2 linked regions of the Homo sapiens genome follow. The protein of the gene in region 2 purifies or fractionates together with the protein of the main gene of each other region. This does not show direct contact. Each region holds a gene or a part of one and is shown on either strand. Other genes may lie near its edges.

Evidence for each region.
Region 1: the proteins of SHOX (region 2) and KLHDC8B purify together in Homo sapiens (affinity purification with mass spectrometry; one large-scale study listed by BioGRID and IntAct). This does not show direct contact.

Annotation. Positions count from the first base shown.
Region 1 is NC_000003.12:49,170,204-49,174,621, reverse strand, and holds the start of KLHDC8B (kelch domain-containing protein 8B), read right to left. Parts: upstream 3,025-4,418; 5' UTR 2,937-3,024; intron 1,987-2,936; 5' UTR 1,853-1,986; coding exon 1,477-1,852; coding exon of another isoform or gene 1,447-1,476; intron 384-1,446; coding exon 219-383; intron 1-218. UniProt on the Homo sapiens protein: Involved in pinching off the separated nuclei at the cleavage furrow and in cytokinesis. Required for mitotic integrity and maintenance of chromosomal stability.
Region 2 is NC_000023.11:647,681-652,275, forward strand, and holds the end of SHOX (short stature homeobox protein), read left to right. Parts: 3' UTR 1-3,904; downstream 3,905-4,595. UniProt on the Homo sapiens protein: Controls fundamental aspects of growth and development.

The sequences.
Region 1 (4,418 bases), on a different chromosome or scaffold from region 2:
TGAATCATCCACCCTACAGTCCCTCAGGTACTGGGGTTTGGTTTTCCAACCACAGCAAGACCACCAGGGGTCAGAGCCTCAGAGCAGGCATGGATCACCCCAACAAAGCTTCTCTTGTTTTGCCATCCTGGACTGAGCCTGATCCCTATCCCAGCCAACCTATGAGGATGAGGATTTCTAGACTCTGAGCCCCCTTCCCACATTCCCCAGGCCCTTACCCAGGACATAGATCTTGTTCCCGTGCAGGAAGGTGGAGGCCCCATAGCAGGGTGTGGGCATGGAGGGTAGCGAAAGCCAGCAGTCCCGACGGGGCTCATACACACGTACCTGGGCCTGGGGGGCCGTGTCAGGGCCCATTCCCCCCAGAGCATACACCATACCATCTGCATAGAAAAGAGTAGTTCAGATTGTACCTCAGCCTGCCAGGGTACCCCACCCTGACAGCTGCCCTGGTAAGTCCTGGGGGTGGCTGGAGACCCATGTGTTTATAGCATCCCTCCCCAGCAACAGACACTCTACTACCTGCCTGCAGTGGGGGCTGGGAGATCTGGGATTCCTACTCTGGCCAGGGCCCCTCCGAGTAAAGAGCAGGAGGCAGCCGATCTAATTATAATCCGACTCTGTCTCCCTGGAGATGCTATGGCAACAGAGTCTGGCATCCAAGCAGGGCTGGCCTGGGCTGGTGGTCAGACCTGGAGGCCACAAGGTGGGGACTCCCCTCGGGGAGGAAGATGGGGGGATGGCTTAAGCCAGGGGTAAGAAACATGGGGATCTGCTTAGCACAGAGCTCAGTCTGGGGAGGAGGACTGGGGACCAGCTGGAGTTGGAGATGGGGCTGGGAGAGGAATGGCTTGGGTCTGCTGGGTAAAGATACTGTCCACAAGCCTTCTGCCCCAGGATCCCTGCCAGCACCTCTGTGTGACACTCTTTCATTATAGTAGGTTCTTGCCCTCTGTTAAACCCTCAGAGTCAGCTACGACATGTCTGGGGGCCTTAGGGTAATGGGCCAGTCAGCTGGGGGCTTCCATGGCAACCATCCCAGATCAGCTTGGCCTTTGTCCATATCAGGCTCCCTGGCGTGTGGGAAGGGTTGGGGGTGGGGCAGGAAGTCTAAGCACAGGCTCTGAGCCAAGGCCCTACTCCTCTCCCCCACCCCAGACTATTTATAACCCTGGGAGTCATTAGGCCATCCCACCCCCATCTCTTAGAAATGAGGAGTGGGGCAGGAACATGGCTGGGGTCTCCCATCATCCTGGGATCGGCTTGGGCTCTGCCTCCCACCTTAGCCAGAAAAGGCAGTTAATAGAAGGCAGCAGCTCAAATCTAGGTTGGAAAGGATACAGGGGACAAGGCCACATCCTGGGCACCCATGTAAAAATTACAGCTCTTGTTCAGTCTCTGAGGGTAAGGGACTAAGTCAGGAAATAATAAAAGGTGTTAGGGTACCTGAAGTGCCTTCCTTGGGAGGCCACTCACCTCTCTCCACAGTTGCAACCCCCATGGCTGCTTGAGGGAGGGTGGCCCGACGCTCCCAGCGGCCCTCATCCATCAGGAAGGCCTCTACAGCAGCTACCGGGCTCTGGACCTCATCCACACCACCCACCACTAGCACCTGCTTGCCCAGAACTACCGCAGCTGCACCAGCCCGGGCAGTGGGCAGGGGTGCCAGTGCCAGCCATGTGTGCGAGGCCATGTCCAGTGTCTCAGCAGTGTCCAGGGGCAGTCCAGCCCGGCCACAACCCCCCAACACCAGCAGGTGCCCATCTTGGTGTGCCACTGTGCCATAGACCCGGCAAGTGGGCATGGGGGGGAACACTTGCCAAGCAAAGGCCCGGCCACCTCCTGCAGACATGGTGTTCACTGCCAGTGGCAGGCCATGCTGTCTGCTCAGACTGTAGGCCTCACTGGGGAGGCATGACAGGGCCTCATCTTGATTCTGCCAGGGCCACAAGAGGTATATGACCAGTCCAGGGACCTTGCCTTCACCTGGAGGAAAGAGGGAAAACAGGGGTCAGGGCACTGACCGGCCCCTCAGGAAACAAATAAGCAGCCTGTAGCTAAGGGCAGGGCTGGCCCAAAATCACTGGTGGGAAAGGCAGGGGGAGAACCCAACCCCTCTGGCTAGCACACCACTGTGGAGGCCCTCCTGGAGTGGGAAGGAGGGCAGGCCCCAGGTACCCAGGAGCCTTTCCCCTTTCCCATGGAGGCATGAAGGATTCTCCTTCTCACCCACTACCCAAACCACTCAGCAACTGGGTCAAATCTGGGTCTAGGAGGGCAGTAGTAAGGTGACTAGAACAGGACTCTCCATCCAGGACCCTTCCTTTCCCCTCAACAAGCCTCACGCTGGTCCTGCATGAGGGGAGTCCTTACTGGCTTCCAGGGTGCCCTGGGCAGCCTGGGGGTCCCCACGCCTGCTGTCAGGGGTCAGACTCCAGAGTATCCTTACAACATCCTGGGGGCCATTCCACAGGGTTAATTTAAACCATTCCCACTAGTAAAAGACCAGAGTCAGGGTGTGTTTCAGACTAGGGGGAGGACTAAACACCAGGGTTCCACACTCTCCTCTCGAGGTCCCCCCTCAGGAGTTTGCCCATTCCAAACCCCCCCAGAAGCCAGATTCCCTGGTGTCCAGAAGTGGGGTTGGGGCGGGGGGCCGTTGGAGAAATCTCATGACCACAGGACTCCAGGGTCTGAGTCCAGGGCGTTTCCACCAGGAATGGGCAGCTGGACTTCTGGGTTCCCTCGCAGGAGATCCCCAAGTTCTCCAGCCACCCCTTTCTCTTGGTGGCTACACTCCTGGACCCCTGGCAGGAGGGCCTCTTGGCCCCAAACTTCCAGCTCAAGGATGTGGGGGGCGGGTCTGGGCTAACGCGCTTGGGGTTCTACACCCCGCGCCCCAAACTTCCCCTGAGCGCGGTTCCCGCGGGACTCACCCGCCGGTGCTCCGATGCTGCCAGGGTACGGGGTCCGCCGTTCCGCCTCCGTTGACGCGGGATCTGGCTGGGGCTGAAGTCGGGCTCTGGCGGGGCTCCGGCACTGCTCCGGCGCGGGGCGGGGCTGGGCCAGGTCCGCCCCTCGCCCCCCTCCCCCTCCGACTCAGGGAAACCTCCTCTCGCCTTAACCCTGCACATGCCGCAGCTGGAGCAGGGCGTGCCGATCTACGGTCATATGCAAACGGACAGATAAACGGACACTTGGACACTGGGCCTGACAGAATTTAGCGTCCGACCTCGGGCAAGAGTAGAAATGAGGCAGCGGCGAGCGACACAACACGTGTATGGCAAGGGGCAGTTCTGAGCCCGACCCAGCCTGGGTGCGCAGGCTGTGTCGAGCAGGCCAGCCGAACCCGAGGGCTTGAGGGGCCGGCGCCTGCCCACCTCCGCGGAGCTCCCAGGAGCCCAATTACAGGCTTCCCGGCGGCGCCCCCTGGAGGCCACTGGGGACATGGCCTGGGCCTCTGTCGTGTGGGGGCAGCCTGGGGCGCCCTTACCTGGGCATAAAGCAGGAATAGGTCTTACAGTGTACACTGAGGCTAGCGGGGGTGGAGGAACAGAAGGCACTGGCCCTTCTACAAACCTGGGTGGGGAGAATTCCTGGAAGGAGTGATACTGAGCAGAGAATGTGCTGGAAGAGTCAGAGGCCAGGGGACCTCCCAGTGGGTCACTCTGGCCTCATCCTGTAGGGCCTGAGAGACCTGGGCTACTCTGGGACCCAAGGCACATTATAACTATCAATTTTTAGTATCCTGAGCTTGCCTCTAACCAATTCTGGGGTCAAGCAAGAGCAAACTAGTGTGACAGGGGCCCACCTACCTCAGGCCCAGACCTTGGCCCTGCCTATCTTCTGAGCATTCAGAGTATTAGCTAAGTCTTCAAGCTGAGGGCCCATTTGTACAGGTCAGTGGTACCTGTGGGAAGAGGTCCTTGCAGTTGTCTGTGTCTGCTCACTGCCTTGTCCCCCTTTCATGGACAGTGCTTATCTTAGTTTCCCCCAAAGCAGACCTGGACAAAGATATACATGCATATAGTTAGTATGGGAGGTGAGGCCAAGAAACACCAGCAGTGGCAAGGAGACAAGGAAAGCAGCCAATAAAGGAAGTGTCATCAAGCAAGCTACCACTGTGGGCCATTGGGACCAAATCCTGCTGGGGATTCTGGGAGCCAGCGTAGAACATAGGCCTTACATCATTGCTGCCCCCAAGAACAAGGGGAGCTGAGATACTCATTCTCAAATCTCCATTAGTCATGGGTTGAGAGCTGTTTGGGGGCATTACCTATTAACTCCCTGGCCTCCCTCACATCTGGCCTTCCCAGAAGTCTATGGGTAGACCCTCCCGCATGACCGGAGAAGAGAGCCTTTGCTCTTTTCAGGGACTGTCAGTTGGATTCAGTCGGCCTGCACAGAAATGGTGGTGC
Region 2 (4,595 bases):
GTTTCAGCCTCCCGAGTAGCTGGGATTACAGGCACCTGCCACCAGGCCTGGGTAACTTTCTGGTATTTTTAGTAGAGACAGGGTTTCGGCCTCCCGAGTAGCTGGGATTACAGGCACCTGCCACCAGGCCTGGGTAACTTTCTGGTATTTTTAGTACAGACAGGGTTTCAGCCTCCCGAGTAGCTGGGATTACAGGCACCTGCCACCAGGCCTGGGTAACTTTCTGGTATTTTTAGTAGAGACAGGGTTTCGGCCTCCCGAGTAGCTGGGATTACAGGCACCTGCCACCAGGCCTGGGTAACTTTCTGGTATTTTTAGTAGAGACAGGGTTTCGGCCTCCCGAGTAGCTGGGATTACAGGCACCTGCCACCAGGCCTGGGTAACTTTCTGGTATTTTTAGTAGAGACAGGGTTTCGGCCTCCTGAGTAGCTGGGATTACAGGCACCTGCCACCAGGCCTGGGTAACTTTCTGGTATTTTTAGTAGAGACAGGGTTTCAGCCTCCCGAGTAGCTGGGATTACAGGCACCTGCCACCAGGCCTGGGTAACTTTCTGGTATTTTTAGTACAGACAGGGTTTCGGCCTCCTGAGTAGCTGGGATTACAGGCACCTGCCACCAGGCCTGGGTAACTTTCTGGTAGTTTTAGTAGAGACAGGGTTTCAGCCTCCCGAGTAGCTGGGATTACAGGCACCTGCCACCAGGCCTGGGTAATTTTTTTGCATTTTTGGTAGAGACAGGTTTTTGCTGTGTTGGCCCGGCTGGTCTCAAACTCCTGACCTCAGGTTGACCTGCCCGCTTTGTCCCTCGCAAAGTGCTGGGATTACAGGCGTGAGCCACCGCACCTGGCCTGAATCTGAACTTTTAAAAGGGAGTTACTGACTCTCAACTGTGCGGGGACGGTTTCAGTTTGATTTAATATGGAAAGAGGGCCAAGTGTCATCCTCACAAATGGGTCCCCGAAGCAGATCAAACGCAGAGAACTGTGAGGGTGGGACACGAGTGTCTGTGGACACTGGCTGCCTTTGGCTTTTCTCCTGCGAGAGAAGTTGGGTGACTTTCTGTAGGTGGATGAGTGATCCCTGAATGAGTGTGGGGTACGTGTATGCTAGCTGCTTCTTTCTCCCTGAAACTCTCGGATGGAAGGAAGTAAGAAATTCAGCTTGGGCTGTGACCAGTTCTCACCACCAACGCCCTCTTCTCTCTCCCTTCTCCTTCCTTCCTTCCTTCCTTTCTTTCTTTTTCTTTCTTTCTCTCTTTCTTTCTTTTCTTTCTTTCTGTTTCTTTCCTTTTTATCTTTCTCTCTTTTTCTTTCTCTTTTCCTTTTTTGTTTCTTTCTTTCTTTTTCTTTCTTTCTTTTTCTTTCTTCTTTCTTTCTTCGATGAAGTCTCACTCTGTCACCCAGGCTGGAGTGCAGTGGTGCAATCCCAGCTCACTGCATCCTCTACCTCCTGGCTTCAAGAAATTCTCCTGCCTCAGCCTCCCAAGTAGCTGGGATGACAGGCACCCACCACCATTCCCGGATAATTTTTGTATTTTTTAGTAGAGACCGGGTTTCGCCATGTTGGCCAGGCTGGTCTTGAACTCCTGACCTCACATGATCCACCCGCCTCAGCCTCCCAGAGTGCTGGGATTACGGGGTGAGGCACCGCGCCCGGCCTCCTCTCTCTTTTTCTGAGATGTTTAGGAAGGACTGGGCTGATGGGGACCCTCTGTATGTGATGTGCGTGGGTTTGGTTTCCCGGAAGGCCCTCCAGAGACACGTTTGCGTGAACATTCAGCATGGAAACAACATACGTCTCTCCACAGGAGGTGAGAAATTGAATTTATGGGGTGGGTGTACGCTGGCGATTCTTGGTGCTTTTTGCTCAAAACAAGGTTCTTTTGAAAGTCACGTTCCTGCTTTCCCTGTGGCTTCCCGGTGAGCTCGCTCGCAGAGCAAGGAATACCACCCAGAGAGCAACGTGGGCTGTGTTCCGATGTAACGCCGTTGCAGAGAGAGGATTTGGTGTGTGAGATCCGTACCAGCTCCAGCACACTGATAGGAACACGTTGCTGGCCGAACTGAACGATGCTGGGTTGGGTCCTGATTGATACGTATTTTCTTCCCTCCTCTCCCCAAAACTTGGCCAAATAGTCCGTGGAGGGTTGTCAGTCGCCGCAGTTGAGCAAAAAACACTTCTTCCTTTGAGTGGCTGTTCTGGTGAAATCTGTTTCTGACATATCCACTTTTCTCTCTCTTTTCTCTCTCTCTGACTGCGAAGCACCCACAGGGAGAAGGAATTGGATGTATCGGATGTTGCTATTAGATTTTCTTTCTCCGTTCGAGTCTCTGACTGGTGCATACTTTGCAAAGGTGTGTTCCTGGCAATTGCCAAGAGTTAGAAAAATGCACCTTCTCTGGTGGCCGTTGGGGTGTTGTTTCACAGGCAGTGGTGACAGGGCCCCTTGGCTGTGGCTGTCTTCTCCAGCGCCGTGGATAAAGAGATGGGACAGATTCTGTGCCTCTGTACGATTTAGAGCGTAACTGACCGCGTCCAACACCCGTTTTTCCACTTACAAAGCTGGTGGTGCGACGGGCTTGGTGTCTCCCGTACGGGAAGGAGGCCTTTGGGCCGCTCCAAAGACGCCCTGTCGTAGGAATGGCCTCTCCATCCCGCCAAAGTCCAGCCAGGCCCCCGAAATGGTCCCATTTCCTTGGAAGCCTGAGTTTCTGTTCTGGTCTTGCTGCTGTCCTTGGCCACGTCAGCACGTGGGAGCATCTGTGGATACCGCAGAGTCTGGGGACAGCTGGGCGTTTAACCGAAATGAAGCCGAGACGGGTTTCAGGTTTTGGTGCCAAGCTCTGGTCAGGATGAAAGGGAAATACCAGAGTCCTCTGTCCTCGCCTCTGGGTTTCATGCTGACCTTTCTAACATTTGTTTTCCCCTAAGAACAAGCAGAAGCCTCCAGCTCCCTTTAGCTCCACAGTTTTCCCGGGGACATAGCGAGGATGGCACACGGCAGCCACTCCCACGACACACATTTCGGAGGCACTTTGCTGGAAGCCGCTTGTCTCCTCCAGCTTTGGGAGGTCTGGGGAGGAGAGAGGCTTTCGGTGGACACGTTTGACATTAAAAAAAAAAAAAAAAAAAAAAAAAAACTGGTGCCTAATTTATTAAAGAGAATTAGCTTAGCGAGTATATGCTGATATTCTTCGACACACGTGGGTAAGTTGATGCCATTTATAAATGTTTTATTGAAATTTGATATTTAATGAGAAGCCGGTTAAGGAATGTAGACAATATCCCGTTTCAAAGCTATGAAATGTGCTATTTATTGAAAGGGGATGTGGCTTCACGAGTTCAGCCCATTGTACGTGCAGGTCCCGTGGGAAGGAGGCAAAAGCCCCTGCTTCTTACTTTGTGATGTATGTGCATTTGTTATTTATTTTTTTTTCCTTGGTCGGACGTTCATAAATATGTACTATTTTAATTATGTCGAGTGTAAATTTGACATCGCGTTGCATTTATTTTTATATTTCTGAAAACTGTTGCTTTTTCTTTTTCCCTCCCCCATTGACGACATAGCGGCCCCCGCGTCCGGGTTACAAATACATCTACAGATATTTTCAGGGATTGCTTCAGATGAAAACAAATCACACACCGTTTCCCAAACCAACAGTCTTCACATTTCTATCCCTCTGTTATTGTCGGCAGGCGGTGAGGGGTAGAAAAAAAACAAACAAACAAACAGAAAAAAAAACCAAAAAAAACCACCCTGAGTTTCTCTGGTGACGCCCTCATTCTCCTAACGTTCAATAATCTCAATGTTGAGTTGCAGCAACAGACTGTATTTTTGTGACGCCCCGTAGTATGAATGTACATCTTGTAAAACTGAGATATAAATAAACTTATAAATATTTGTATTCAAGTGTTAAAAAAAAAAAAATTCTCAACCTCTCCCCTGAGGACAGGCTTATTGGAAAAAAAAAAAAAAAAAAAAAATCCTGAGTCGGCCGTGGCTGAACACAGAGTGTTGTTCTGCTCCGTGCATTTCCAGGGTGGGTACCCAGTGTTGCCCCCCAGCCTTAGATCGGGAGGTACCATTGACTTTTGCTTGTATCCCATCCCCTTCCTTTACTGAAACCTACCTCCCCGCTTCTCAGCCAACGTCCCCCCAGAAGGTGGCAAAAAAAACAGAGGAAAAAGCCCTGATTTGAATCAAGTCAGAGCTGCTAATTCTCCACTTTCTTTAATTAATTAATTTATTTTTTTTTTTGAGACTGAGTCTCGCTCTGTCGCCCAGGCCGGAGGAGTGCAGGGGCGCGATCTCGGCTCACCGCGACCTCCGCCTCCCGGGTTCAAGCGACTCTCCTGCCTCAGCCTCCCGAGTAGCTGGGATGACAGTCACCTGCACCACCGCGCCCGGCTCATTTTTGTATTTTTAGTAGCAATGGGGTTTCACCGTGTTGGTCAGGCTGGTCTCGAACTCCTGACCTCGTGATCCACCCGCGTCTGGGCCCGGCCGGTGATGTGTGTGCTTTTAACTTTTATTTTGTTCCAGTTTTCGACAGTGGCACGGATTTTCCAGCACGGTCTTGCAAGGATGATTGAGTC